7 linked regions of the Homo sapiens genome follow. The protein of the gene in region 4 interacts with the protein of the main gene of each other region in a biochemical or structural test. Each region holds a gene or a part of one and is shown on either strand. Other genes may lie near its edges.

Region 1 (3,500 bases), on a different chromosome or scaffold from region 4:
AATGTTTGTTACACAGTGGAATCTGAAACTCTATCAAGGAACTTTCATTTTCTGTTATGTTGAAACCCATTGCACTATCTGGCACTTTGAATGGACCTTTTATCCTTGCATGATTTTGTTACACTTCAGTCATCTGGAAAATTCTGAGGCATGCAGACCTTCCCAATGTATAGTGGAAAGCTCTCCTGTGCACTTGTGAGAAGAAGGGTGAAAAAGGCAACAATAATAGGAATCTTCATATTATTATGAAAACAATCATGACTTCATAGACCACCCTGAAAGGATCTCAGGGTACATCAAGGAGTCCCTAGACTACAGTGAACTGGGTCGGCTCTGAAAGATCTTTTTGCTCTGAAATGTTAGCTTCCCAATTATTCCTTCCTGAATATTCCCTTGGAATAAGAAAGGCACTTTTGCTAATTCAAGGGCTACTGTAAATGCAACAAGGAGTGGAGAAAGGGTTTGTCCCTTGAGTCTAAAGGGTTTTGTGTTTGTTTTGTTTGACAGAGAGACGGTTTAAGATGACAGAACTGGGAGGAATGATATTGTCTCAGTTAATAACAGAAGCTCTTGAACTCAAGTCCTTGCAGCCCTCAAAACATAAGAGGTCTAGAGTTTGGTGTGTGATTGATTGGTGGATAAGGCAGCAAGTGGACCAACTCAGCGATCTGAAGGATTTCCTTTTTCTGTATACACTTGGGATTCCACTTTCCCCCACTGGCTTTCACAAAGGTTAGCCAGTAGCATGACAAACCCTTTATACAAAAGTGATACTAGAATATTCACATGGATTTCAGATGACTCAATTTGGAGTTATGTCATCTCTATTTTGTTGACATATAAGGAGGTGAAAAAATCATAGAATAATTCATGGTTGTTTCCTCTTTTTTCAAGATTCTTTCTCCCTTGAGGGAGACCCTGTTGCTCAGAGAACATTTGCTCCTCTAGGAACTAAGTGCCATTCAGAGCAATGAGATGAGGATAAAGGGATGAAGTTCAGGCCAAGCTCTATGGGTTCCTCTCGCAATATCTTGGAGAAGTCTTTGCCTTCTCTAGATGCTTGCTCTTTCATCTGTATTAAAACCAAAAACTACCATAATTACCAATATATAAAAAGTCAGCGGGATTCAGACAAATTTGTAGACTTGTGACTTTGGGAAAAGATGCTACAAAACCACATGGTTTCTGAATGTGATGTGTCATAAGTACAGCAGTAATAAGCCATGCCTGTGATCCTGTGTTTCCCTGCTCCAGGGATGCCCTCCTCCTCTCTTGCTTTCCCATTCTGTCTACCATCTACAGACCTGGAAGGCACATCTCCAATGGCACCTTCTCCATGAAATCATCCATGAAGGCTTTATTGACTCTGTCAGCTCCCCTCCCGACTGGAACCTGAGCTTGCCTCCCTTCCATCTCACTTGCCAGCATCTGGGTGGCTGGCATCCCTATTATTTGTGCAACTTGCATTATCCACTCTTCTTGTGAGGTTCTAAAGAAAGAAACTGTGTCTTATTCTATTCCTCTTTGAGTCACTCTTAAATAACCAACACAATGGCATGCTTTTATTGGGAGCACAATAAATAATAGCAAATGGCCATACAGTGATTGCTATGAGCCAGGTGTGGTAAAGGCTTTACATAGACCTACTCATTTGACACCACGGCAGCCCTATGATGAGGACACTAGGACTCAAAGTCATTAAGTAATTGTGTCCCAGGTCACACATTGTCATAAAGCAGTAACATGGACCCAGGCAGCCAAGCCCCAAGTCTGCACTCCTGACCACTAGACCACTCTGGCTCCCAACTTAATGTGCAGGGAATTGAATCAGACAGGACTTTGGAGTCATCAAACCATCTTTAGCCATTTTTTCACCTGATCCACACAACAAACCCATGAGGTGGGCCGGGAAGATTCATCTCCAGGTTAAAGATGAAGAAATTGAGCCATCTCAGGGGTCTCTCTGATAGATAACTGATGAAGCCAAAACCAGAATTTATATCTTTGATTCTTTTTTCCTCTGTTCTTTCTCTTATATCACAAATTATCATAATAAGAATCTGGTTATGCAACATAGGCCAACAGTCCTAAATAGCCTTATAAAATCACTTATTTAGAAAATAGAATTGTGCCCCTAATTAAACTACACAAAATTAAAAACACACAAAAGTAAGACACACCAATTTAGCTAAATTTCTAAAATAAAAAACATTTTTTAAAACACAAATAGAAATAGGTAGACATGTCTCCACCAAAGGCTATCAAATCTGATTTAATAGCAACATAAATATGAACAAAATCTTTGGGAATTTCTTCCAGACAAGTAAATATATAGAGATAAGAAATAATTTATAAGATATAATATATTCTCTTATAAGAAATGCTGCCATGGAAATCAGGCACTCTATATCTTTAAATAGAGTATAAATACACTTTTAAAGAATGCAAAGTGATTAAATTTTGGTAAGACTATTCCAAATCTTTGTAAAGCATCCTTTTACTTTTTTACTGTGTAACATTATCTTCAGCACCTCCAAATTACCTCTAAAATGAAAAATAAGCTATTATTATAAATTTTGTTTATTCTTTTCTTTTCTCTCAATGACTTGATATATTTGGTGAACACACAACTTTGACTATAATGACTATCCCACTGTAGTTGGAGGCAGGGTAGAGAAATAAGTTGGGGGGATTCTGCTGGAAAGAGGAAAGAGTTAAAGCATGCTTCAGAGTTGATAAATGATGCAAGCAGAGAAATATAGTCATGTATATGGAAAAACTAGAGAAAGGGCAGTGATTGACAACTGTCTCTAAATCAAAGAAAAATGACTGCAACTGGCCCTAGAAGAATTCCAGGATACGTTTCCAGAAAGGCTGTTAAATACTAAAATGGATTCAAAGGGGAAGTGATAAAATCTGTCTCTATCAGTCTTAACCAGAAAAAAGGAAAGCAAAGATGGAAGGAGAAAGAGAATGAAGCAGGAAAAAGGGAAAGATGGGAGGAAGTGAGGAAGAAGGGGGATAAATCAACGAAACAATAAACATTAGTCCATCCAGAATAATTCTAAGCCTATTGCCAACTGAAGGCTAGAGCACACAGGAAGGAAGAGAGGGGGAGAAGGGAAGAAGAAGTGAGGAGGTAGGGAGAGCATGAGGGAGGAAGGAGGCGACAAATAAATCGCAAAACATTCATCAGTTCAGAATAATTGTAGGTCAACACCAACTGAAGGTAGACCACGTCTGCCATCATACGCGGCATGAACTTTAGAAGGTCCTTCCTGCCCTCTGACATTTAACCTGATGGACTTCAGAAGCCACCTGCATACACACCTTGGACGGTAAGGTAAGCAGATCCATGCAGGCGACTGTTCTGGAGGCTGCATCTGATGTTCCCCGAATCACTGGGCTCCACATTGTGGATGATCATCTCCGAGGTGAAGTTCCCGCCCTGGTCGTACCTCTGAGAGGTGAAGCGGTCATTGGTGATGATGGGCTCCATG
Region 2 (3,500 bases), on a different chromosome or scaffold from region 4:
AGGTATAAATACGGGATATTTGGGGCATGTGCATGTTATCATCATCCCTAGCTGTGTATGGAACTGTTTCTCAAACAATGCAACAGTGACTCCTTAATATATTGTGTGAACCATAATGTCCTGGTTTTACTGAAGTTCTTTTTTTTTTTTTTAAACCAATTTCTAATTTAAAAAACTAGATAGTCAAGATTATGGTAATTATACTTGAACATGCAGGTACAGTGACACGTGTGTGTGTGCTGAAAGATGAAGAGCAGTGTGGTGTGTGGGTGCATGAATGACTGAAGTCAGATGGCTGCTAACAGGAGTTTGTAGGCCATGAGTCCAAGCCCTGGCAAACCACCTGGATCACCATGTGTCTCGCAGAGAGGACAGGCTTCTTATGGGAGTTTGGAGGAGGCTATGGAGACAGAGCGACAAAGCTCCTCACGATGGTTTAGGTGTGATTATGTTTATGGCAAATAACAGGCCATTTGAATAAGGTGGATGCCAGTCATCTGATATCTGAGGCAACTTCTCATAGGATACTTTCCCAACCCTCTACTCTTCTTAACTTTTTCCCATTTTTACATAAAGCTACAGAGTCTAACAAATTAATCGGTCCCAATGGAAATATAAATTTCCTTAAACAGATACAGGTCAAAGTGGCTCTGAAACTAAAATTTAAATGTAGCAATGTGCCCTGCCAGTAGGACCCAGGCCAAAATGATTGTGGGCATGGGATTACCTGGAGTTGAAGAACCTGGATTGCTCTGCCCACCAGAAGATGCCTTGCTCACAATATTCTCTAATCTCTTCATTAAAAAAGGCCGAGATATTTTCACATAGCTATGAGTATGCTCCTGTTCAAATGACATAAAAAGTCATATTTTGTAACACGATTATCATAAACATTCATGAAAATTAACTCTTCTGTAGCTGTTTTCCTCAAGTTGTTTTTTCTGTTTGTTTTTTCTTTTTTTTTTTTAGACAGAGTCTTGCCCTGTCACCCAGGCTGGAGTGCAGTGGCATGATCTTGGCCCACTACAACCTCCACCTCCCGGGTTCAAGTGATTCTCCTGCCTCAGCCTCCCCCGTAGCTGGGATTACAGGTGCCCACCACCATGCCTGGCTAATTTTTGTATTCTTAGTAGAGACGGGGTTTCACCGTGTCAGCCAGGCTGCTCTCGAACTCCTGACCTCAGGTGATCCGCCTGCCTTGGCCTCCCAAAGTTCTGGGATTACAGGCATGAGCCACTGCGCCTGGACTGGAAGTTTTTAAACTGAGGGGTATAAATAATTCAAAGATTTCTAAGCCCTACTGTGTTTCAGTTTTGAGTTGAAGCCTTAATATTTTCACAATTACACAATTACTATACTTTATAGCCTGTGTTTCCAATTCTAACCTATGTGTCTAGGTCAAATAGTAATATTCATAGCATTACTTTTACAAATACAACTTTAGTTGGCTTAATGCAAGTGAAATGATCACAACCCTGTAAATGATTGAGATTGTTTTCGAGCTCTTGAGCCTTAGAAAACTGTCCCTTCACAAGATGATTACAGTTCCCCCTTCTGATCAGTAATAAAAATAGCTACAAGCATTTCAGAGCTGTACTGATGCATTATCTGCATTAGGCACCATCTTAAACAGATGAGACTAATACATACCACAAAATCTTATAATTTAGGTCTGAACGAATATTAAAATTTCAATTTAATAGAAATTTTACTGTAAAAGCACATCCAAAGGATGAAATTCAGGTATGATGAGAAAGAAGAAATCAAAAGTGTTTTTTAGCTTCTCATAGAAGTTTGGTGTACACAGAATGTATTCGGTTTTGTCTAGCTCTTGTTATTGTGCTCAAAAGAAAAATAAAAACATTTATCTTCTTAACTAACTGCATGAATATTAATATCACATAGAATTCCTAACACCTTTTTTGCCCTGATGCTACTTTAAGCCACTCCACCCAGCAGGCCCAATCAAGAAATTACAACCAGTCTCCTTAAATGTTACCTTTTCCCTCCACCTGAAGATGGAATTACTACAAGGATGGCTGGGTTGAGGTCTTTGCTCAAGTTCTGCTAACATTGATGACAGTTTGTAGGAGTTCGCTTCCAAAAGGTCTAGTTTCAAATTGTTCTGTGGATACATCATTTGGCCATGTGAGCAAATTTCTAGTAAATGAGGCACAACTGGATAGGAATATCAGAATAACTTTCAAAATAACAAAGGTTAGAAAAGTACGCATTTAACTCATACAGATATTCACAGAAAATGCCGAAGGAAAAAAAAATGGAGGAATAAACTCTTTAAGCAGTTTAGAGGGAGGTTTTAGTTGTTGAGTGTGTCTCATTCTGTACTCTGGGGGTGAACAGGAAACCTTGGTAATATATTAGTATTTTATGGCAATGAAGAGGTTTTACTCAATTTTCTGCTGAGGGACAAGAAAGGGGATAAGTGTTGATTGTAGAAGGTAGATTTTTGGTGGTCTGCGAAGAAGGTGAGCCATCAGTGCTAAATATTGTGAACAGAATTGAATTAACATCAATAGACGCAAATGAAATTGAATGTGAGGTTTGTTTGTTCTTTGATAAGGTGAGGTCTTATATTACCCACAAAGTTTACAGGAATACTTCTGGAAACTGGGAACAATATTTTAGGGCATTTGAGTATAAACATAATAAGTCAAGCTAAAGATACACTCCTAGTCTCTGTCTGTTCTTGATATGACCTTGAACTAGAAACTTTATAATTACCTTGTCAGGCTGGGTCCAGCCAGGGTGAATTAAATAACAGAATCTAAGCATTGGAAGGGTCTTGCTTATCCAGCCCCCTCCTCACCATTATCCCTCTCTCCCCCACACCTCCAGCATGGGAATTCCCAACCCTAATATCCCTGCCAGGGTGTCACAGCCATGGACAGAAGACATCCAATTGATGGAGAAAGTCTCTAATCGTTGGAGGAATCCACTGCATTGTGGGGCAGGCTTACCTAAGACAAAACTAAAAGCTCCCCCATGCTTTCTACCATTAGACCTTCACTTGATAGTCTCATAGAGCACATCTAGTTCTTCTTCTATGTGGCCCTCTTTCTGGTCTCTAAAGACAGTATTTAATCTAAGTGCCTCCAGTTTTCTCAACAATTTTTCTTATGACACTGCTTGTGAACATTCTTGATTCAAACATGGCACTTCAAGGACCAAGATATAATGAAATAAGGAAGAATGTAAATAAAAGTTTCCTCATCCTAGAAACCTTCCGTGGGTGACACAAAATCTACCAGTATCACTAGTTTCTGTCTACCCAGATGCAGAGCATGCGTAATGAAATCATGTGGATATTTGGCATTCCTCACTTAAAGGTTCATAGTTGCTCCTTCACCAGATCATAAACATTGGAAGTTCCAAGGTCAGATGCTCTCCCTCCTTGTGTCCTCCACTGTGTGCTTCAGGTGAGAGGACCCAGATGATCCTAATACATGTATGCTGGTAATGACAATGACAAAATTCTGTGC
Region 3 (3,130 bases), on a different chromosome or scaffold from region 4:
ATGCACAGGAAGTGCAGATCACAGTCCTCTCTGGAGGAAAAGACTAATGCCAGTTCTTCCCAAGTGAGTCCCTAGATTCAGGGCAACCTGGTCACAGTTCAGAGGTTTGCTTTTCCAGAGCCTGAGGCATGCAGTCTCAACTTCTGACAACTGGAAATGTAGAGGAATAGCTTTGACAGGTTTGTAAATGACCAACAAGGAGGAGAGATTGGCTATTAAACTCCAACACAGTAGTAATTATACATTAACAGGGAAATAGATCAGATGACCAGAATCCAGTAACAAAGATTCGTACAAAATTAGGAAAAGTTCCTACCAATCATTAAGAAGAAGTTAAATAAGCCTTGGAAAAAAATCATGAAGGGTTTGGGGTAACTTACACAAGAACTGCTCTTTTGAGAGTGAGGACCACTCTGTTCCCTTAGTGCTAGGCACCCAGCAAACACACCATAAATGCTCAAAAACTGAATGTTCATCACTGGTAATCAGAGAAATGCAAATTAAAACAAACGCATATGACATTTTACTTAACAGACTGGCAAAAATGAAAAAAGAAACATAATATCCTGAGCTGGCAGGAGCACAAGGAAATGGGTCTCGTGCTGATGATGAATGTGAATTGATAACAGTTTTTTTGTGATTTGCGATAGCACAAAATTGAAAACAGCACAAATGTACGTTACTCTGGGCTCGCTAAATAGGCACTAAATAAAACGAGTCAGTTTCTTCTCCCGAGCAAGTAAACTAGAGGGTAGATCCACGCGACCCGGAGTCTAGGACACATCCTCGGGAGTGAACAGCCACAATTCACAGACGATGTGTGCAGCCGGGGCATGAAAGGCCCAAGGCAAACACACCACGAGGTAAACGCCGGGACTCTGAGGAGAGGGGTGGAAGCCGGGACTTCGAGGAGGGGTGGAATTGACTTAGAGACAGGAGGGAGCCTCTTGGAGGGCAAAGCTGCCCTGGGCAAGTGTTCTTTTCTTTCTAAACCTTCCTTCTGGTCTCTGTCTGGAAATTTAAGCGCGCCCCCTGGTGGGGGAGAGAGGAAGGGGAAGAAAAGGGGGTCTCGGAGGAGAATAAAGTGCTCGTGGGTGGAAGAAACCTGGAACAGAAAATGCCAGAAAAACCTGGAACAGAAGTGCAGACGGCCCGCGGCGGCCCCGGTGATCTCCACACTCAATCACCCTCTCCAGGGGAGCGATCGCTCCTGAGGCTGCCAGCACCCCACCACCACCCCCAACCCGCTAGTGCCGATGACGGCCACAGAGGCCTTTCTCGCCCCCAGCTCACCTTTGCACACACAGTTCCCCCGTGCAGAGTTTGTGCCTCCCTCATCTCTTAGTTCTCAGCTAAGACTTTCCCTGACCCCACCCAGGTCATACCTCCTGTCGTCGCGCCGCACGCAGCATCCCAGACCTCACCTTCGTATTACTAGAGCTGGCCCGTTGTGATTCAGGTCTGCCTTCCACCCAGGCTGTGGCCCCCTTCAGGGCAGCATGGTACCCGTCCTGCTCACTACTGCACCCAGAGCCTAGGACATGCCTGGCACCTAAGCAGATACTACTGTACTCGGGAGCCATGCATGGCCTGCGCAGGAGGGTGGCAGGCCAGGTGACAGGTTCAAGGTGGAGCAGAGGAGCTTTATTAGAGGGACAGGGTGAAACATATTTACACCGGCCGAGCAGGGACCTTAAGAAGCAGGCGTGGGAGCAGGGTCCCAGCTCAGACGAGTTCCACCTTGGCATTGGGGTACACCGCCACCACGTCGTAGCCCTCGGGCGGCTTCACGCGCGCCTTGGCGTGGCTCTCACAGTAGAGCCGCTCGTCCAGAAAGAAGTAACCACGCTGCTTGAGGTTCAGGCCGCAGTCACTGCACATGAAGCACTCGGGATGGTAGAGCTTGTCCCGTGCCTTGACGATGGTGCCCCTGATGGGGGGAACGAGACAGGACAGCGTCGAGTGACTGATGGGTTCACGACTGCGCCCGCATCCAGGGCCCTGGAAGGCTAGGGTCCGGGAGGGGCAGCGGGGGCGGTTACTCACACGATGCCGTGGCCGCAGCGCGTGCACTCGGGCAGCCCCTGCAGGCCGCTCAGCGGAGCGCCCAGCTTGCTGGCCGTGGGCTTGAGGTTCCGGGGGCCGCCAGGCCCGGGCCAATCCCCTGAAACCCGGAGCGTAGGTGGCATGAACGGGGTGAGGAGGTCAGAACTCCATTTCTGCGGGGTGTTTGGTTGGGCGCCAGACGGGCCATCGGCACCCGAGACTGGGGAACGGGTTTGGCGGGCGTGGGGTGAGGGGCAGCGACAGGGGGTGGAGAGGGAATCGGGAAGCCAGGGCGTAGCAAGGTTGTAGCAAGGGCGTGGGACCGGGCCGCAGAGACCGAAGAGGGCAGGTGACTGCGAGGCGGGACGTGGGGTCGCTAGGGGGCAACCTGGGCACTGCAGGGAGTGGGAAGGCAGATGGGGACAGGTGGCAGGCGTCTTACCGCCCTCGCCGGCCTCTAGCATGCCCTGCAAGTAGCGGAAGGAGCCTGACTGCTTGGGCTCCGCGGCCACGGGCTCGGCTGGCTCCCGCAGCATCCTGTACACCTCGGAGCCCAGGTCGACTCTGCAGTCCCGGCTCCGCGGGAGGCCTCTGGCTGGGTCAGCGCTGGGAGGGAGAAAGAAATAGAGGAGGAAGGGATGCAGTTCCAGCCTTCACCCTGTGGACTTGGGGTCTGGTAAGGCTTATGAGTCAGAATGCAACCAGCTAAGACCCAAGGATCAAGTGTCAGGGGTCAGAGTGGGACTGGGTGAGATTTGAGGGATCAAGGGTTAAGATGGGTTCTGGGCATGGCACCGAAGGCATCTCTGTGCTACCTGGGGGGTGGAGACACATGCAGGGTGCTCATCTGGGCTGGCAGGGTGGCCTCGCTGCTGCCATTGTGAGGGACTGGAAAGCGAGGGGGTTGTCCATATGGAGATCCCAGGCTTGGTCTGCCATCTTCTGGCCCAGTCCCGGTGCCTGAGGGCCGCCTGCTGGTTGTTGGGCTGCCGTCCTATTAGAGAGAGGCCTAAGGCACTGGGAGACCCTCTGGCCTCCAGCCATTCCTTGTTCACCCCACCCCCACCCTGCTGTGCTGTGCCAG
Region 4 (3,500 bases):
ACAGAGTGACCTCCTAAGGTCTGTGTTACCCACCCTCCCCAACCCACTCCAATAAAACAAACTACAGTCAAAAATTACACAAATATTCTCAAGACAGAAACCAATACTGATGAAATTAAAATCTAAAACCATAAAAACCCTAGAAGAAAACCTGGGCAATACCATTCAGGACATAGGCATGGGCAAAGACTTCATGACTAAAACAGCAAAAGCAATGACAACAGAAGCCAAAAATGACAAATGGGATCTAATTAAACTAAAGAGCTTCTACACAGCAAAAGAAACTATCATCAGAGGCAACAGGCAACCTACAGAATGGGAGAAAATTTTTGCAATCTGTCCATCTGACAAAGGGCTAATATCCAGAATCTACAAGGAACTGAAACAAATTTACAAGAACAAAACAACCCCATCAAAAAGTGGGCAAAGGATATGAACAGACACTTCTCAAAAGAAGACATTTATGCGGCCAACAAACATATGAAAAAAGCTCATCATCACTGGTCATTAAAGAAATGCAAATCAAAACCTCAATGAGATACCATCTCACGCCAATTAGAATGGCGATCATTAAAGTCAGGAAACAACAGATGCTGGAGAGGATGTGGACAAATAGGAACATTTTTACACTGTTGGTGGGAGTGTAAATTAGTTCAGCTATTGTGGAAGACAGTGTGGCGATTCCTCAAGGATCTAGAACCAGAAATACCATTTGACCCAGCAATGTCATTACTGGGTATATACCCAAAGGATTATAAATCATTCTACTATAAAGGCACATGCACACATATGTTTATTGCAGCACTATTTACAATACCAAAGACTTGGAACCAACCCCAATGCCCATCAATGATAGACTAGATAAAGAAACTACCATACATATACACCATGGATACTATGTAGCCATAAAAAAGAATGAGCTCATGTCCTTTGCAGGGACATGGATGAAGCTGGAAACCATCATTCTCAGCAAACTAACACAGGAACAGAAAACCAAACGCTGCATGTTCTCACTCATAAGCAGGAGGGAGAGCTTTAGGACAAACACCTAATGCATTCAGGGCTTAAAACCCAGATGATGGGTTGACAGGTGCAGCAAACCACCATAGCACAAGTATAACTATGTAAAAAACCTGCATGTTCAGAACATGTATCCCAGAACTTAAAGTAAAAAAAAAAATAAATAAATAAAAGTACAGTGAGCTCCCAGCTATCTGTGCTAGAAGCAGAATAGTTTATGCACTGAGAAAAAGGAGGAGGAGAGTAGCGGGGCCCACCCTCTGCCTCCTCAGGCACTCTGTGAGGTTATCCCTGGATCCCTGGGAGCAGGAAGAGGGCTGACGGGTGAAACTGAAGACAGAAAAATATAGCTCTGAAAAGTAAGCTGCACTATAATGAAGGCGTGAAGGACACCAGCTGCACCCAATAAGAAGGTGGTGAGAGGTGCCGGAGTGTTTTCCTCGGCATGTGTTACTGACACATGTGGAACCTGTTTCTCTGTAGGTCTTTAAATCAGAGAAGATTCTCCTAGCCCTGGGATAATTAGGGACACTTATTTAAAGGTTGAGGATTCAACTACATGACCTCTGAAGAATGCATCCTTCAAGCCTGAAGATATACGTAAAGCAAAAACCATTTATTTGACATAGAATTAAATAATTTATCACTTGTGTCTTAACATTTAAGCCCATCTATAGAACTACATGAAAACAAAATTTGTCTGTTGTGGTAATTCAGGCATTCTTTCAACAAAGATTTAACATGTCCAACACATACAGCAATGCTGGAGAAGCAAAGTACAGAAAGATTAGAGAGGTGAGGGAAACACAGAATTTTCCACTGTAAGCAGCATAAGAGATTATTCAGAGGAATAGGAGGAGGACAGAATTAATCAGGGAAGACTTCTTACAAGGGATGAAATCTAAATCAAGTCTGAATTTGTGATGATCACAAATTGGCAGACAAAGAATGACAGAAAGAGAAACCAAAAGGGCATTTACACATTAAGGACTACCCATAAACAAAGGCATGGAATTGCAGTTTTCTAAAGAAAAAATTAGCCTGGAAGCTATGGAGGGACCATGATGGAGAACAAGGTCAGGCCCAGTGGACTATGGCCTTGGACACTCTGAGGAAGGTGCTCCAACACAAAGCAAAACATTGTGACTGGTTCTTAAAAAACTACTCCCGAGACACATGCAAACGCCCATGGCTCTTCCTTACCTTTCCCATAGAAGAATTTGCGGTAATAATAGGCCCCAAGGTCAATGTGTTCTATGATGTAGCGCTTCACTTTCTCCCTGTGAATAGGCTGGTTTTCTCTGGGCACTTCCAAGACGGAGACACCTGCATTTGTGCAGTGAGAGCTGAGTGACGATTCGAAAGAGCAGCTTTCCCCAGAACTGAAAGAGGATGAGTTGGCTCGAGAGAGCGCAATCCGCCTGTCGCCTTCCCCTCCAGTCTCATTTCTAAAGTAAGGACAACTAAGGACGAGGTCGTTACTTTTCCCATCACCCTCATCGGCATCCAGGTTCTCTTTGGAGTTGAGGTCCTCCTTGCTCCCTAAAGGGGACTCACAGTTGCCTGTCTGGCCCGTAGGCATCTGAGTCTGGGATGCTGCAGATGCCCCAGTGGTTATGTTTTTCCTTTTCCCCACATTAGCCCTCGTAGCCATGGCTTCGTTGATATTAAACAAAATGCTCTGGACATCATAATGTGCAAAACATCGCTGACAATTCCAAGGGCGAATGCCCCTCTCCAGTCGGCTCTCCTCCAGCTCAGACGTGAACTTGAAAGTTTCGTGCTCACTTTTAACAGTTCGAAGCTTTCGGAAGAGAGATGTTTCCACCGACTCTGATTTCAACCTCCGTTTGAAAGGCTTGTCCCTGTCTCTCCCCATCAGGAGGGCACTGTCCACATAATCTAATCCTGAGATGCGGACAAATTCTCCCCTAGAAATCTGTGCTGCTGCATGAAGGCTCGGAGAGATTGCAGGGTCACAGCGGAAAAATTCAGGGAACCCAAAAGGGACCATTGCTTTGTGGTCATAATTTTCTACTCGGTACCCTCTGAGCATAGCAAAAAAGTTTTCACCAGATAAGCCTTGCCTGTCGATGGATGAAGTACTTCCATACTCCCTGTGCAGGGCAGCCCCGGTGTTGGGGTTGACTGCATTTTGGTCTAAGACATCTTCGGCATCAATGTCACTGATAGTGACATCACTATTGCTCCTCTGTCTTATGGGGTGAAGTCCTCTTTGGGGGGAATGGACAAAGATGTCTCCGATTGTGTACTTGGCCTCCACGAAGTCCAGATCGAGCTGTTCATCTTGCTGACCTTCACTCTGGTCACTCTGCCCATTCTGCAGGACAGAAGTGATGCTTTCATAACTGGTCTGAGACCGGCTTTCCCACAGTGCCTTGCATGTTAGCTCCTTGGAACAGTCCTTTTTAGGAGGCCATTCAGACACCCTTGCTCTCACACCCATCTTGGGCACAGCT
Region 5 (4,214 bases), on a different chromosome or scaffold from region 4:
ATTTTTCCTTTTTTTTTTTTTTTTGAGACGGAGTCTTGCTCTGTCGCCCAGGCTGGAGTGCAGCGGAGTGATCTCGGCTTACTGTAGCCTCCGCTTCCCAGGTTCAAGCGATTCTTCTGCCCCAGCCTCCTGAGTAGCTGGGATTACAGGTACGCACCACCAGCACCCCCGGGTAATTTTTGTATTTTTAGTAGAGACAGGGTTTCACCATGTTGTCCAGGGGGGGTCTCGAACTCTTGGCCTCAAGTGATCCACCCGCCTCGGCCTCCCAAAGTGCTGGGATTACAGGCGTGAGCCACCACGACCGGCCTGGATTATAATTTTTAAAATGACACTTTCTTAGTAGAAGTGTATACATAGTAAAGCTACTTTGGATTAATACATTTTATTACCCATTTTCTGGTAAGAACAGATGTTTGGCAGGTGGAACTTTTTTGTGTGTGTGTAAAGGAAATGTATTCATGAAGAAATGGTAGTAATAGCAAGGTAACCTCAGAGTTCCACAATCATTCAATCAAGGGACCAACCTTTTATCTTCTATATTTAAAACAATTCTCCATTCAAGTTTTTCAAAGTCAGTGTTCTAGGTTTGATAAATGATAATGCTGCGTGCCAAATCTTTTATCCCTATGCATGCATTTTTGGAGCATGGCGTTTCTGATTCATTTATTCAGTCACCAAATATTTATTGTGGGCCTGAAGTCCCTTGCCTTATACGTTAAATTAGCATACTCAAAAAAGGGAACAAAGAGATTCAAAAAGTTCTATTCAAAAGTTGGCGTTGATGCTTTCCAGTCCCCCACCCCCACCCCACCTGTCAGCCCAGAAGTGGCCACACCTTATTGCTAGGCCTGGCTCCAGCGAAGCTTGTGTAAAGCCTCAAATCTACCTGTGCCTTCCTCTCTTTCTCTGCCGCGCCCGCCTCCCCGCCCAGCCGCCGCGTGCCTCCGGGGTACCTGTCCCTGCAGCAGGAATCGATGCTGAGCTCATCGATGCCCCAGTACTGGATCTCCTGCAGGAAGGAGAGCGCGCACAGCTGCTCCATGACATGCAGGCGGCCGGTGCGGTAGTAGTGCAGGACATATCGGAACGCCTGCGAGCTGCGGTCGAAGAAGTACTCGTTGTCCACGGGGTTGGCATCGTCGCAAAGCTCCAGAGGGCTGGGCACGGCGGCCAGGGCCCCGGGGCGGCGGTAGGAAGCCACCACCACGGCCAGCTTGCCAAGGCGCGTGTGCGGGAAGCAGGACAGCGCCTGCTGCGAGAGCACGAAGCGGCTGCCGCCCACGTTGACCGTGAAGCAGTCCCCGAGCGCCAAGGGCTCCCCTTCACCCTCGCTGCAGAAGACACTAGAGTCCAGGGAGGTCAGGGAGCCGCTGTCCAGCGGCGAGTCCAGCAGCGCTCTGCCGCTGGAAGGCATCTCTAACCCAGTCGCCGCGGCCTGAGGGCGCCACAAAGTTGGGGACACGCCGGAAGCTTTGGTCCCGCGAGGGCGGTGGCACGGCCCCTGGTGGCGGCCGGGATTCCCCGGGCTCCCGAAGGGGTTACCTCTCCTTGGCGCACCCTCTCCACCCGCTGTGCGCCTTCCTCCTCCTGCCGCTAGGGAGCCGGGAGTGCGCGGAAGCAGCGCACAAGTGGCAGAAAGAGGAGACAGGGAGCAGAGGAAGGGTCGCGCTAAGAGAGAGGATCAGGTGAGGTCCAAGCCCGACACAGTCCCTGTGCACACTGCCGGTCGCCCTGGCCCTTCCCAAACGTTGTCACCCCGCCTCCCAACTTCGCAATTGCGATTCCCAGCCCAGGAGGTGTACAGATTGAATGACTCGCTACTTGGTGGGTGGAGGGGTTGGGGAAGGGAGGAAGGAGGGAGATGTGGGGCGGAGGAGGAGGAAGAGGAGAGAAGATGACTCTTAGCTGAACGCAAGCAAGCAAGCAAGCAAGGGGGATGGCGAGACTCACTCCTGCCCGCAGGAGACCAAAACAAAAAGTTCAGAAAGCAAAGGAAGTGGTAACCGGGTCCCTTCCAACTTGAGAATTTATATTCCTCCCTTTTCTTTTACTGCTGCTTCATAGGCCTCCCCCGGGGTGTTCGCTGGGGGTGTGAGCAGGTGGGGGAGGGTTCTCTGGGTGAGGGGGCCGCACCATTTTCTCCCAATTCACTCTCATTCTAGTCTGATGATCACTGACGCTCCATTTTCTTCCGCCGTCTCCCTTAGGTTCTGACCTCCTGGTTGAGAAACAAGAATAATTAATGATGACTTTTTATTGAAGACCCAGTGGGTCACTAAGAACTAGGAGTGTCACTGTCAGCTCCCACCCTGTCGAGGGTCCACCTCGTGTTGAGGCACTTTTTTGAGGCACCCTTCCTTTTAACCATTTCTGTCCCTACAAGTTTCCCGGAGAGCAGGTGTTCTGAGCACAGCGGAGCTCTCATTTTAGAAGGAAAGGCAAAAAGACAAGGAATAGAACAAGCGTGGGCTGGGGCAGGAATTTAAATAGTAACGACGGCCTCCCTCGGTAAAGGGAGAAGCCGAGGCCAGCGCCCAGGTGAGACTAGAAGTGTACCCACGGGGCCCCTGGAAGCTGCGCTCCAGCCAACCTGTTGGACTCGGGGTGAGGAGGTGGGGGTGGGAGGGAAGAGCAAGTGACTCACCTGCAGCTCCCGGCACATCTGGTCTGCGCACAACCGGCGCCGCAGGTAACGTACTCTTCTTTTGATCCTCTTAGTCTACACGTGAGGTCTGACTCGACCGGTCCAGGAGGGAAACTGTGTTCCAGCTGAGCTCTACCCAGCGCCTGCTGCCTTGCCTTGCCCCGCCTCCACCTCCCTCCGGGCTCCTGGCCCCTGCGCTTACGCTAAGCGTGTCCGCCCCGCCCGCTCTAGCTCTGAGAGCCACTCGCCCAGTGCTTCCAGCACCAGCAGAGGGGAGTGGCAGGATCTAAGGGAGGGAGGTGAGACGGCGGGGGTGGAGGCGGGGGGTAGTGAGGTGCCCGGTGACACTCAATATTACATTCATCCTGAATACACTTGCAGAATTACTGCATTTGATTCCCGTTTCCCCGGATCTGTGCTTTTGTAAATGCTCCAGAGCAAAATTTCCAACTGGATCAGTGTGCTAAACTTGAGGTTAGGGCAGTTATATTAACTGCTTCATTTGGCATGGTTCAAGGTTTTCACATTTTCAGCAGGCATCTCAGAATCATGCATTTTTCAAGTCTTTGCCAGAGAGAGTGAACCACACTCATCTTCGTTGTTTTCTAGTATGTATATATAGAATACATATTGGAAAGCATATATTATGGATACACTTACATATATAAGTATATATTAGAAAGCATACACACACACACGTATTAGGTAGTATATATAAAGACATAAGCAGGCAGCCTGATGTAGTAGAATAAGCTTTTTCATAGATTGGACAGAAACGTGACTGTTTAGTTCTAGCTTTGCCAACTGGCTGTGGGACGTCTAGCTATCATTTACTTTGAGGGTCTCAGTGCCTTCCTCAGTGAAATTTCAAGCTTTAATGAAAACACCCAACATTTAATGGGTGCTTACTTTATGCCAGGAAATTTGTAGGCTCTTTATTCATGCAGTACCTTATTTAATCATAATGACAACACTATGAGGTAGCATATATCCATTTTACAGAAAGGAAAAGTGAGGCACAGGGAAATTAAGTGATTTGCAAAGGGCCACACAGTTCAAATCAAACCCAGGACTACATGTCAGAGGCTGCCTTCATAAACAAAATTCTAGAAACATTATTTTTTGTTGATAAATCAGTGTGATTGTTTTTATTTTCTTTGTTTACAAGTTTCTAATGAAGGACAGGAGTTTAATGAGGTATTTTCATCACTCTTTCAACAAAAGTTTACTGAGCATTCACTATATACTGGCACTATTCAAGGTACTTGCGATGTATCAATGAAGAATAGACAAGATCTCTGTTGTTGTGGAGCTTATAGTAATCCTCTGAGAATAAATGGGGGACTTCAATAAACTTTTTTAAACTATAATATTTATAAGCATGGTTCTTTTGACAGCCATCCATTTGGTTAACTTTTCTCCTTAAAGAACTCTTCCATACAGTAAATACAGAAATGCTAGAATTATCCCAGTCAACAGTTCTTCATTCTGTATAGGTACTGTATCGTTATTATTTTTTAATGTAGCAGAGCTTTCCCCTGCACAGCAAGAAAACTCCTCCAGCATC
Region 6 (2,188 bases), on a different chromosome or scaffold from region 4:
TAGACAGCTGTCTTCTCATCATAATCTCACACATCGAAAGGGGTGAGGGGTCTCGCTCAGGCCTCTTTTATAAGGACACTAATCTCATTTATGAGAGCTCTGCCCTTATGAACTAATCACCTCCCAAAGGTCCTACTTCCTAATATTATCACCTTGAGGGTGAGGGGATAAATTGTCGGGAGACATAAACATTCAGATCATAGCACTCCCCAAGCCAAAAGAAATACATAATTGTTCTGTTCATTAAGTAGTAAAGTTCAAATAATTTAATAGTAAAAGTTTGTGCAGTGTCTGCACATGTTGCTGTGTTTTCCTCACAAATGGAAAGTTTTGTACTTCCCTGTGCACCTCAATGCACAGTTTGGGACCCACCACTCTAAATCCTGTCCCATCCTACTAGCTGTTTTTTGTGTGTGTGTGTGCCATCATCATAGGGGGACCCACATCCACAATTTTCTGCCACACACGCTTCAGCACAATGCTCCACAAGCAAACACAAATTAATGGCAATATTTATATTTATTTTTGCAATTCCTTGGATAAAAACCATTTGAACAATGTTTGGTAAGGTGTTATTCTCATAAAAACTTCTTTCAAAATGAAGGTATTTCTATTTTCCACAAAAGTTAAAATTACATGCTGAAACAAAGTTAATGACTTAGGTAACACAATACAATGTCAGAAAACTGGTAGAGTAAGACCAGCTAATGAACTACGTCATTAAACTAAACAATTACACAGAACTAGAAAACTTGACTCAGTAGTAAAATATAAAAATCTACAATTATAAATATAAATTTGGTCCATGGAGACACTAGGGCAGTATTTACAATAAGTAACAGATTATTTCTACTTTAGGTGAATACTGCAGTTGTAAAATGTTGAATATCATATGGAAGAGTGTTTTATTTACAGGCTACTGTATTAAAAGTTATATTTCTAGCAAACCTGATAATTGCTACAAATACAGCTAAAAATTTGACACTAAAAACAAACATTTTCTGTAGTTTGGAATTCCTAACCTCTATAAATTGAAATTTTCTGTTAAAATCAATACAGAAAAAAATACCACAATTCCATTCTTAGAAATACTGTAAAATTCAATCATTTTAGTTCAAACATAATAAGTAAATTACAAGTCTTGCAAAAAGGCACACATTGTTAATGATATAAATTTGGCGGCAGAATCCTATGTCATGAAAGTTACTGTCAGGTGATGGGAAATCAACAGATAACAGAACTAGACTGATTTTCCTGCCTAATTTTAGGAAGAGGAAAACAATGCTCAGATGTGAGTTCCCCCACCCCTTTCTGTGTTAAACTAAAGACTCTAAGCTCTCAGCTATATTTCCATCAGGCAATGCTGCACCATTACTGTCCAGAGAGGTGGATGGATTCTCTTCCTGCCTTGTGCTCACAAGGCTGAGGATCACTTTGTAGAGAAACTGATACTGCTCCTAGAGAACAGAAGATGGGAGGTAATAAATGCGAAGCTCAGTGAAGACATACATTTGTAAAAAGAAGAAATATTTTTAGACACACTTCAGCACTGTTCATGAAAGGGCAATGTGTTAAGGGCACTGTTATACTCAGCAGATGCACACAACCTATACTGATGTCTCTTCTGATTAAATTAACGTTGCAATCGGCAGACCATTCACTGACCTAGAAAATTAACCTACATACATTTGCCAATAAGTACTTAATTCTTATTCATGAAATCAGAAGGTGATGAGACAGGGTTCTGTTAACTTGTGGGCGAAACCGTTTGGCACTGGACATCTGTAACTCACTCAGAAACAAGTTTCTTCTTTCTCTACTTGTTAGAAAATCCATTGGGTCTGCCTCTTTACGGAAAGATCTCAGGAATGACTGTACTGTTAGCCCAGGAACCCATGTAGAATGCAATCCTTCACTGTTCACCAATAAGAAGAATTTCACATTCTATCAGCCCAACTGGTCCTATGCCCTGCTATGAGCAAAGGTAAGTACCTTCTCTGCTGTGGTCTCAGAGCAGTGGCACATAGAAGCATGAAACAGTTTTTCTCTTACAGATGCCATCTCAGGCAGTTTGGGGAGAGGTAGCTACAGAGAACCTGAACCAGTGAGCAGCATCATAGCCGAAAACCATGAGGCCTACATGTGACGCAGTGCATAATTAAATGCTTTCGCGAACTGTGCATCTCCA
Region 7 (4,026 bases), on a different chromosome or scaffold from region 4:
AACCACACAACCCAAGACCCAACAAGACTCAGTGTTTCCCCACTCGTTACGACTTAACCTAGCTCTTCCTAAACCCAATCCCCTCCCCCCAGCCTTGCCCTCCACCCTGCCCTCCCTCCCTCCCTCTAGGGAGGTGTGAGGTCCTGCAGACCTCAACTGTTCCTCACACTTCGGTGACCAGGTGTTTCCCTGGGGGTGCCCAGAGTGGAGGTGGTAGCTCAGGTACCTCCCCGTCCACCAGCCCCCCATTGGCCTTGCCCTCCAGTGGGCCACAAGGCTGCATGTCCACATGGCTGAACATCCCAGCCTCTTCGCCCTCTGTCTCCCGGTGATAAAAGTAGCTGAAATTGGAGACAATGACGGGCACTGGCAGGGAAATAGTCAGCACGCCCGCAATGGCACACAGAGAGCCCACTATCTTGCCACCCACAGTGACGGGTGCCATGTCTCCATAGCCAACTGTAGTCATGGTGACTACCGCCCACCAGAAGGACTCAGGGATGCTAGTGAAATGGGAGTCCACCCGGTCAACTTCGGCAAAGTAGACGGCGCTGGAAAAGAGGACCACACCGATGAAGAGGAAAAAGATGAGGAGGCCCAGCTCACGCATGGAGGCCCGAAGCGTCTGGCCCAAGATTTGCAGGCCCTTTGAGTGCCGGGACAGCTTGAAGATGCGGAAGACACGCACCAATCGGATGACTCTCAGGATGGCCAGTGACATGGCCTGCTGGCCCACCCCTCGCTGCCGGGCCAGCTCGGTGCCCAGTGCCACAAAGTAGGGAAGGATAGCCACAAAATCGATGAGGTTCATCACGTTCTTGAAGAAGATAGCCTTGCTTGGACAGACCAGGAGGCGTACCAGCAGCTCAAAGGAGAACCAACAAATACACAGCGTCTCCACCACGAAGAACGGGTCATTGAAGGGCAGGCGGGGTGGATTTCCAGGCATTTGGCTGGAGCCATTCAGCGGAGCGGGGAACTGCAGGGAGGAAAGTGTTCAGGGAGGGTCAGGCTGGGGCTAGGACACGGGGACAGCCTTAATCATCATTTAAATACCCAGCTCCTCTTTACACATTGGTCAGTAGCCGCTGCGCCAAGGCCCTCCGTGACCTGGTTATCCCAGACTTCCTCCCAGGATCCCAGGGATCATCCCTGGGCCGCTGACTTTCTGGTTGCCTGACCTGGTGGGTGGCTGGAGACGTGGTCCCTGCCCCTTCATGCGTGGGAACTCATGTTTGAGTAGGGTGCAACCTCTTCTCTCTCAAAGTCCCGCCTCCAGTGTTGATTTTCTAGATGGGGAGCATCCCTGCCCTGGCCCCACCACCTTGTGCCTAGCTTTTCCTTGCCCTCCACAGTCCCAGCCCAGAGTATAATGCGGCTGGGCGCGGTGGCTCACGTCTGTAATCCCAGCACTTTGGGAAGCCGAGGCGGGCGGATCACGAGGTCAGGAAATAGAGACCATCCTGGCCAACACGGTGAAACCCCATCTCTACTAAAAATACAAAAATTAGCCGGGCGTGGTGGCCTGCACCTGTAATCCCAGCTACTTGGGAGGCTAAGGCAGGAGAATCGCTTGAACCCGGGAGGCAGACCTTGCAGTGAGCCGAGATAGCGCCATTGCACTCCAGCCTGGGCGACAGAGCAAGACTCTGTCTCACAGGAAATAAAAAAAAAAAGACCTTCTCTGCAAGCCGAGCCCTAGGCCCCCTCCTCTGGCCCCTCAACCTGGCTTTCTTTCCATAGATTCCTCCTACTGTCGCCCCTCGGGCTCCAGCACCCTCAGCTGGAGTTATTCAGGGCCTGGCTTTCACCACCCAGCCGCACAGACTCCGGAGTTTTCAGGCTCTCCTTGGCCCCCCTCAGCTGTGATTTTTAAGGTTCCTGTCCTCCTACCCCTTGCATCAAGGGCCCTGCCCTCTTCACGCCGGGTTTCTCACTGACCTCAACCCCACCTTCTGATGGGGCAGGTCCTCCGACCCGGATCCTCAGGCCCCGCCTCCCGCCCACCCTGTCTTCGGCTGGCCCACCCCTCGCAGCCCCTGGCCCCGCCTTATGATTGGCCAGGTCCCCTCTGGACCCCGCCCATCTCCTCCCAAACCCCGCCCGTCTCCACCCACGCCCCGCCTCTCACCGGGCCGGCTGCGGCTGCAGCAGCAAGCCCCGTGCCGTCGCGGTCGTCGCGGAAGTCAGGCAGCGTCTCGAGGCAGAAGACGACGATGGAGACGAGGATGACCAGCACGGAGACTACGGCGAGCACGCGCGCGGCCTGAGAGCTCTCGGGAAACTCGAAAAGCAGCCACAGCTGGCGGGCGAAGGCGCGGCGGGGCAGGGGGCGCTCGGGCGGCACCGGGCAGCCCTCGTCCTCGCGCAGGCGTGCCAGGGCCGCCGCGCCCAGCCCGTAGAAGGCCACCTCTTCCAGGAAGACGTCGAGCGGCACGTGCGCCGGCCGCCGCAGCCGCCCACCGGACTGGTAGTAGTAGAGCACGGCGTCGAAGCTGGGCCGGTGCCGGTCGAAGAAATACTCGCGGCGCGCGTCGTCGTAGAAGCGGCCGCGGCGCGCTGGGTCCCCTAGCAGAGTGTCCGGGAAGCGGCCCAGCGTGCGCGCCCGCGTCTCGAAGCGCAGCCCGGCCACGTTGAGCACCAGCCGCTCGCAGCAGCCGCACGGCGGCGGGCACCGCGGCTCCATGGCGCGCGCAGCCCCGGCGACCCGCGAACCGACGTGTGGCCCCGACGCCCGGCCCCGGTGCGGCCCCGCCTCGGCCGCCTCGGCCGCCGCCGCCGCCGCCCCAGCCCGGTGTCCGGTGTCCGGTGTCCGCGCGTAAAAATAGCCCGGCAGGGCGGCTAGGGCGCGAGGGAGGGGGCACTGTGACCCCGGCGGGGCGGAGGGCGACAGGGCGACCGCGCGCCCTCTGCCGGGACGCCCGCCCTGCCCTGCCCCGCCGCCGCCGCCGCCCGCGCCTGCTCTGCGCCTTTCCCGTCCCGGGGTCCCCTTTCTCTCCGTCCTTCTGCCGCCGGGATCCTGTCCTGCGTCTCTCCAAGTTTCCGTGTGCGTGTGTTTCGTCAGAATCAGGCTTCAGTTGCAGTCGCCTCTTTTCTTTTCTCTTTCTTCTTTCTTTCTGTCTTTTTTTTTTTTTTTTTTTTTGAGACACAGTTTCCCTCTGTCGCCCGGGCTGGAGTGCAGTGGCGCGATCTCGGCTCACTGCAACAACCTCCACCTCCCGGGATCAAGCGATTCTCGTGCCTCAGCCTCCCTAGTAGCTGGAATTACAGGCGCCACCAAGCCCAGCTAATTTTTTTTCTTTTTTCTTTTTTAGTTGAGAAGGGGTTTCACCATGTTGGCCAGGCAGGTCTGGTACTCCCGACCTCAAGTGATCTGCCCTCCTTGGCCTCCCGAATTGCTGGGGTTACAAGCGTGAGCCACGGCGCCCGGCCTGGAGTCGCCCTGTTTGCACCTTTGTCTCTCACTCTCTTGTGTGTCTGTGTCCGGCTGTCCCCTCTGGGTCTCTGTCTCTTTTGGGATGTATCTCTGAGTATCTCTATGGGTCATTTATTTCTGAGATTCGTCGTTCTGGGGGCCTCTGTATGGGTCCCTCTGCCAGCCTCTACGTCTCGGTCTCCGCCTTTATTTTGACTCTTGGTCTGTCTCCGTTTATCTCTTGTCTCTCTTGGTCTCTTTGTCTCTCCTCTCTAGGTCTCTTTTTGCTCATTATCTCTTAGCCCTCCATGTCTCTGTCTCAGGGTTCCTCGGCCGCTCCCCTTTGGGTCTCCCCTTGGGGTCTCTAGAGGACTTAGGGTCTCCGGAGTCATATCTCTTGATCTCTCCCTGACCATCACTCCATGTGGGTGCTGCCACAGTCCCGGTGGCTGTCCCATCCTAGGGTCACTCTGGCAGCTGCAAACCACTGAGCATGTGCACACACGCCCCATTCTCTCCCCAGAGTTCGCTCCAGAGTCTCCACCTGGATTCTTCGCAAGACTTTCTGAGACCTAGCAGGACCTGAGCTGCGGCTATGACTCTGGCAAAAG

Evidence for each region.
Region 1: the proteins of SIPA1L2 (region 4) and IGSF5 interact in a test that uses a peptide from one of them, tested with the Homo sapiens proteins (one large-scale study listed by IntAct).
Region 2: the proteins of SIPA1L2 (region 4) and NOSTRIN interact in a test that uses a peptide from one of them, tested with the Homo sapiens proteins (one large-scale study listed by IntAct).
Region 3: the proteins of SIPA1L2 (region 4) and PDLIM4 interact in a test that uses a peptide from one of them, tested with the Homo sapiens proteins (one large-scale study listed by IntAct).
Region 5: the proteins of SIPA1L2 (region 4) and KCNV1 interact in a test that uses a peptide from one of them, tested with the Homo sapiens proteins (one large-scale study listed by IntAct).
Region 6: the proteins of SIPA1L2 (region 4) and PTPRZ1 interact in a test that uses a peptide from one of them, tested with the Homo sapiens proteins (one large-scale study listed by IntAct).
Region 7: the proteins of SIPA1L2 (region 4) and KCNA7 interact in a test that uses a peptide from one of them, tested with the Homo sapiens proteins (one large-scale study listed by IntAct).

What each region holds. Positions count from the first base shown.
Region 1 is NC_000021.9:39,765,683-39,769,182, reverse strand, and holds part of IGSF5 (immunoglobulin superfamily member 5), read right to left. Parts: coding exon 3,331-3,500; intron 1-3,330. UniProt on the Homo sapiens protein: Provides, together with MAGI1, an adhesion machinery at tight junctions, which may regulate the permeability of kidney glomerulus and small intestinal epithelial cells. Mediates calcium-independent homophilic cell adhesion.
Region 2 is NC_000002.12:168,858,137-168,861,636, reverse strand, and holds part of NOSTRIN (nostrin), read right to left. Parts: intron 2,126-3,500; coding exon 2,000-2,125; intron 843-1,999; coding exon 728-842; intron 117-727; exon of another isoform or gene 1-116. UniProt on the Homo sapiens protein: Multivalent adapter protein which may decrease NOS3 activity by inducing its translocation away from the plasma membrane.
Region 3 is NC_000005.10:132,270,825-132,273,954, reverse strand, and holds the end of PDLIM4 (PDZ and LIM domain protein 4), read right to left. Parts: intron 3,041-3,130; coding exon 2,862-3,040; intron 2,653-2,861; coding exon 2,489-2,652; coding exon of another isoform or gene 2,165-2,488; coding exon 2,047-2,164; intron 1,931-2,046; coding exon 1,726-1,930; 3' UTR 501-1,725; downstream 1-500.
Region 4 is NC_000001.11:232,511,634-232,515,133, forward strand, and holds part of SIPA1L2 (signal-induced proliferation-associated 1-like protein 2), read right to left. Parts: coding exon 2,224-3,500; intron 1-2,223.
Region 5 is NC_000008.11:109,972,972-109,977,185, forward strand, and holds the start of KCNV1 (potassium voltage-gated channel subfamily V member 1), read right to left. Parts: upstream 2,801-4,214; 5' UTR 2,648-2,800; intron 2,222-2,647; 5' UTR 1,418-2,221; coding exon 957-1,417; intron 1-956. UniProt on the Homo sapiens protein: Potassium channel subunit that does not form functional channels by itself. Modulates KCNB1 and KCNB2 channel activity by shifting the threshold for inactivation to more negative values and by slowing the rate of inactivation.
Region 6 is NC_000007.14:122,060,349-122,062,536, reverse strand, and holds the end of PTPRZ1 (receptor-type tyrosine-protein phosphatase zeta isoform 1 precursor), read right to left. Parts: intron 1,458-2,188; coding exon 1,317-1,457; 3' UTR 501-1,316; downstream 1-500. UniProt on the Homo sapiens protein: Protein tyrosine phosphatase that negatively regulates oligodendrocyte precursor proliferation in the embryonic spinal cord. Required for normal differentiation of the precursor cells into mature, fully myelinating oligodendrocytes.
Region 7 is NC_000019.10:49,069,900-49,073,925, forward strand, and holds the start of KCNA7 (potassium voltage-gated channel subfamily A member 7), read right to left. Parts: upstream 2,801-4,026; 5' UTR 2,687-2,800; coding exon 2,132-2,686; intron 980-2,131; coding exon 164-979; 3' UTR 1-163. UniProt on the Homo sapiens protein: Mediates the voltage-dependent potassium ion permeability of excitable membranes.